Linked DNA regions of Homo sapiens: region 1 is linked to region 2. A link means that fine-mapping ties the variant in region 2 to the expression of a gene that starts in the linked region. Tissue or cell type: sun-exposed skin. Region 2 holds a variant in brackets; the other region holds the start of a gene. All regions are shown on one strand. Distances are from middle to middle.

What was found. PIP is the estimated chance that this variant, and not a neighbour inherited with it, causes the effect. A credible set is the group of variants that fine-mapping cannot tell apart.
Region 1: it holds the start of MYO15B, and the variant in region 2 is the best candidate, but not a certain one, in a credible set for the expression of MYO15B in sun-exposed skin (GTEx, PIP 0.89).

The regions. Positions count from the first base shown.
Region 1 is chr17:75,586,774-75,589,273 of GRCh38, forward strand. It overlaps MYO15B (myosin XVB), which reads left to right and starts at 1,027. Exons shown (of 64, transcript NM_001395058.1): 1 at 1,027-2,500. The coding sequence starts at 1,285. RefSeq lists enhancers at 843-1,676, 1,179-1,248, 1,677-2,500 and silencers at 2,129-2,258, 2,299-2,500.
Region 2 is chr17:75,025,761-75,028,600 of GRCh38, forward strand. No RefSeq gene overlaps it. Among named protein-coding and RNA genes, the nearest start is that of TRR-CCT1-1, 6.7 kb to the right of the region's middle. The variant C/T (reference allele first, on the strand shown) is at 1,227.

The sequences.
Region 1 (2,500 bases), 560 kb after region 2:
AGGAAGAGAGGGAGGAGAGAAGGGAGGAAGGCAGGCTGGCTTTTTATGGTATTATTATGAAATCACCAGATTACATTGTTAAGTGAAAAAGGCAAAGTGGAGACCCCGGAGCTACATAAGCTACCACTTGTGCTAAAGGGGAAAAATATAATATTTGCTTTTCTCTGCATGGAAAGTTTTTGTTGTTGTTTCTTTGTTTTTGAGACAAACAAAATGCTGTCACCCAGGCTGGAGTGCAGTGGTGTGATCTCAGCTCACTGCAAGCTCTGCCTCCTGGGTTCATGCCATTCTCTCCTGCCTCCTGGGTTCATGCCATTCTCTTGCCTCAGCCTCCCGAGTAGCTGGGACTACAGGCGCCCCCCACCACGACCGGCTAATTTATCGTATTTTTTAGTAGAGACGGGGGTTTCACCATGTTAGCCAGGATGGTCTCCATCTCCTGACCTCGTGATCCGCCCTCCTTGGCCTCCCAGAGTGCTGGGATTACAGGCGTGAGCCACCGCGCCCGGCCAACCTGGAAAATTTTGCAAGGAAATACAGAAATGGGTAACCTCAGGGGAACACTGAGTACATAGGCTGAGGGTCAGGAATGGGAGACTTTTATCTTGTAATGTTTGGATGTTTGAATTATGTGAATGTATTACCTGTTTTAAAAATAGATATTTTAAAAACACACACATTGGGGCAATCAGGAATGTATGGGGTGTGGTTCTGTTCCACAACTCCAAGGAGGTAGACAGGCATGTTTTACACCAGTTCAAGATGTACATTTATGTTTTATGTACTTTTCGGTAAATTGTATTTATTCCACAATTGAAAAGAACAAAAACCCTAGCGACTCATGGAGTGCTGCCGTGTGCCAGGGTGGGCCTGGCCCCAGTCCCTTGGAACCCTCAGAAGGAAGAAGTCCAGACAGGTTCTCTGGGCCCTTCCTTGCTGGGCAAGCACTGAGGTGGGAGTGGAGCATGGACCCCCTCAGTCTGGCGCGGTGCGAGGCTGGCCTGGCTGGCAGCGCCTCCCGGCGGCACTGTTGCCCTGTCCGCAGCTGTAGCGTCTCCTGTTTCCTGGGCGCCTCTATTCCATTGTTGGCCGAGGGGGTCAGGACCCGCCGCCTTCTGCATTATTGATGGTCCTGTAAGGCGGGCACCTCGGGGAGTAGAGCCTGTAGCCCCTGCGAGAGCAGAGCCGGGTGGTGCACTGCACAGAAGGTCACCGCGGGAGGCCAAATCCCCGGGGAGGGGAAAGGACCTGGGCGTCGGGAAGCCCGTCTCCTTTGGGCCAGCCATGGGCAGGAACCAGCGCAAAGCGCCCCAGCGCCTGGAGAGGCCCGGGAGGCCGGCCTCAGGGGAGCAGGAGTCGGGGTCGGCCAGCGCGGATGGCGCGCCCAGCCGGGAACGCCGTTCCGACCGCGGGCAGGCGGACAGGGCGAAACCGGCGGCCGAGCCTGCCACCGCCGGGGGCCAGGGAACCCCTGGTGGCCGCAGGAAGCCCACTGCAGAGGGGAACGGCGGCTGCAGACGCCCAGGGGCTGGGCTGTCCCCGAAAGCCCAGGAGAGGCAAAGCAACGCGCAGCGTCAGGGACGCGGGCCCAGGGGCGGCCGCGGGGGGCGCCTGGAGGAGGGAAGCCTCTCCGGAGGAGAAGAGCTGGGCGGCCGCCGTAGGAGGAAGCGGAAAGATAAGGGGCCCTCGGCTCGGCGGGGCCGCCGGACGCCCAGGAGCCTCAATGGGGACACGTCGGGTGGGGACGGAGGCAGCTCCTGTCCGGACAGCGAAACCCGCGAGGCCCAGGAGAGCGGCAGCCAGCGCGGCACAGCCCGGGAGCTGCGGCCCACGCCGGAGCCTACGGACATGGGCTCGGAAGGGACAAAAACCGGGCCGGAGTCAGCGCTGGAGCCAAGCAGCGACGGCCTGGACAGCGACTGGCCCCACGCAGATACCCGGGGCCGGGAAGGGTCGTCGGGGACGGGGCCCCTGGGAGCCAGCGAGCATTCCGGCGGGGACTCCGACTCGAGTCCGCTGGGGACCGGACCTGGACGGGGCTCTCGGGCAGCTATGGCCTCCAGGACCTTCGAGGACAGCTCGCGGGCTCCTCGGGACACTGGGCCGGCCAAGGACGCGAGCGACAACCGGGCGCAGCGGGGCGCCGAGCCAGAAACAATGCAGGCCTCGACGGCCCGGGCTCCGCGCCACCAGGTCGGAAAGGCGGTGGGGCAGGTGCCAGCGGCGGCAGGCGAGGGCGAAGCGGGAGCCGCAGCAGGAGCGGGGCCGGAGGACCCAGCCCCGCTGGCGGCCCTCCTGGTGGTCCGCAGGCTCCTCGCGAGGCCCCCGCCAGGCGCCGCTTCCCAGGCCGTGGGCCCCCGCCGCGCTGGCCTCAAGGAGCGGCTCCTGAGTGTAGCGCGAGCCCTGGGCCTCCTGCGCTGGCTGCGGCGGCGGCTGCGGCTGCGGCGGCGGCCGCCAGAGGGCGAGGGGCAGGGTACCGGGCCACGGGCGAGCGAGGGGT
Region 2 (2,840 bases):
GAAGGTCCCCATGGGAGTTAGGAGACCCTTATCCTCAGGAACAGTCGGTCTATTACTTGGAAGGTCTAGTCTAAATTTAAAAGGTGTGCCAGGTGTGGTAGCTCACGACTGTAATCCCAGCACTCTGGGAGGCCAAGGCAGGCAGATCATGAGGTCAGGAGATTGAGACCATCCTGGCTAATATGGTGAAACCTCGTCTCTACTAAAAAATACAAAAACTAATAGCCAGGTGTTGTGGTGGGCGCCTATAATCCCAGCTACTTGGGAGGTTGAGACAAGAGAATGGCATGAACCCGGGAGGCGGAGCTTGCAGTGAGCCAAGATCGTGCCACTGCACTCCAGCCTGAGTGACAGAGTGAGACTCCATCTCAACAAAAAAAATTAAAAGGTGTTACTATACATACAGGAATAATTGACTCTGATTATACTGGAGAAATTCAATTTGTTATTAGTTCCTTGACTCTGTGGTCTGCCTCCCCAGGAGAAAGAATTGCTGATTTGTTGCTGTTACCTTACATAAAACTAGGCAGCAGCACAGTGAAAAGAACAGGAGGCTTTGGTAATAGTAATCCAGCAGGAAAGGCTGTATATTGGGTTAATCAAGTGTCTGACGAAAGACCTGTTTGCACAGTAACCATTCAGGGAAAAGATTTTGAAGGACTAGCAGATACTGGAGCTGATGTCTCTATTATTGCTATAAAGCAATGGCCCCTGCACTGGCCTAAACAAAAGGCATCCATTGGTATTGCTGGAGTAGGAGCTGCCTCAGAAGTTTTTCAGAGTTCTTTGATTTTACCATCTCAAGGGCCTGATGGTCAGGAAGGGACAATTCAGCCTATCATTATACCTATTCCTGTCAATTTATGGGGTAGAGACTTATTGCAATAATGGGATGCTGAAATATCTATTCCTGTGGATCAATATAGTAATAATAGTAGACAAATAATGAAAAATGTGGGATATCACCCAGGAAAAGAACTAGGAAAAAATAAAAATGGCCAATCAGAACCTTTAGAAGGACAAACAGATCGGACCGGATTGGGGTGTCATTTTTAGGAGCAGCCATTGTTGAGCCTCCAGTTCCCATTCTTGTGTGGCTAACTGCCAAACCAGTTTGGGTGGAGCAATGGCTGCTGAAACAGGAAAAACTGGAGGCTTTAAAAGAACTGGTGCAGGAACAATTGCAAAAGGGACATATAGAGCCTACTTTCTCCCCTTAGAATTAT[C/T]CTGTATTTGTCATTAAGAAAAAATCAGGGAAATGGAGAATGTTAACAGATTTAAAAGCTGTTAATGCTGTGATTCAAGCCATGGGTGCGCTACAACCATGGCTGACCTCCCCAACAATGATCCCAAAATACTGGCCTCTCATAGTGATAGATCTAAAGGATTGCTTTTTTACCATTCCTTTAGCTGCCCAAGATTATGAAAAATTTGCTTTTACTGTTCCTGCCATAAATAATAAAAAAACCAGCAGATGATCTGGTTGAATGGCTTTTTCTACCTCACAATACAACCAAAACACTCACTCTGTACTTAGATCAAATTGCTGTGCTAGTAGGGCAAGCGAGGCTGCGCACAACAAATCTAATGGGATATGATCCAAATCAGATTATAGTTCCATTAACTAAACAACAAATTCAACAAGCCTATATTAATTCCCAAGAATGGCAGGTTAATTTGGCCAGTTTTGTTGGCATTCTTGATAATCATTATCCTAAGTCTAAAATCTTCCAGTTTCTGAAATTAACATCCTGGATATTGCCTTCTATTACTCAAAAAGCCCCTATTGAAGGAGCCATTACTGTTTTTATTGATGGATCTAATAATGGAAAAGCCTCATTTGCAAGACCTCAACAGCAAGTTTTTCAAACAGACTGCTTCTTTCTGCTCAAAGGACTGAACTTATGGCTGTGATAATAGTGTTAAAAACTTTTAAACAGCCAGTAAACATTGTTTCTGATTCAGCCTATGTAGTGCAAGCCATGCAAAATATTGAATGTGCCTTAATTCGAAATGTGACTGATGGAACAACTTAATCTTTTATTTCATTCTTTACAGAAAGCAGTGCAATAAAGGCATTCCCCTTTCTATACCACTCATATGAGAGCACGTACTAACCTCCCTGGTCCTTTAACTAAACTTAATAAAAGGGCGGATGCATTGGTGTCTGCAGCCTTTGCTGATGCACAAACATTTCATTCTTCAACCCATCTTAATGCCTCAGGCCTTAGAAGAAGATATGGTCTATCATGGAAATAAGCTAAAGAAATTGTGCAACACTGTTCTGCCTGCCAAGTCCTGCATCTGCCACATAAAAGAACAGGAGTTAACCCTAGAGGTTTATCTCCAAATTCCATCTGGCAGATGGATGTAACACGTATTCCTGCTTTTAGAAAACTGTACTTTCGGGGCCAGGCACGGTGGCTCACGCCTGTAATCCCAGCACTTTGGGAGGCCGAGGCAGGCGGATCACAAGGTCAGGAGATCGAGACCATCCTGGCTAACATGGTGAAACCCCATCTCTACTAAAAATACAAAAAATTAGCTGGGCGTGGTGGCAGGCGCCTGTAGTCCCAGCTACTTGGGAGGCTGAGGCAGGAGAATGGCATGAACCCAGGAGGCGGAGCTTGCAGTGAGCAGAGATCGTGCCACTGCACTCCAGCCTGGGCAACAGAGCGAGACTGTCTCAAAAAAAAAAAAAGAAAAGAAAAGAAAATTCTCCTTTGTTCATGTTTCAGTAGATACCTATTCACATTTTACTTGGGCCACATGTCAAACAGGGGAAGCTACAGCTCATGTTAAAAGACATCTTTTATCTTCCTTTTCAGTTATGGGAATCC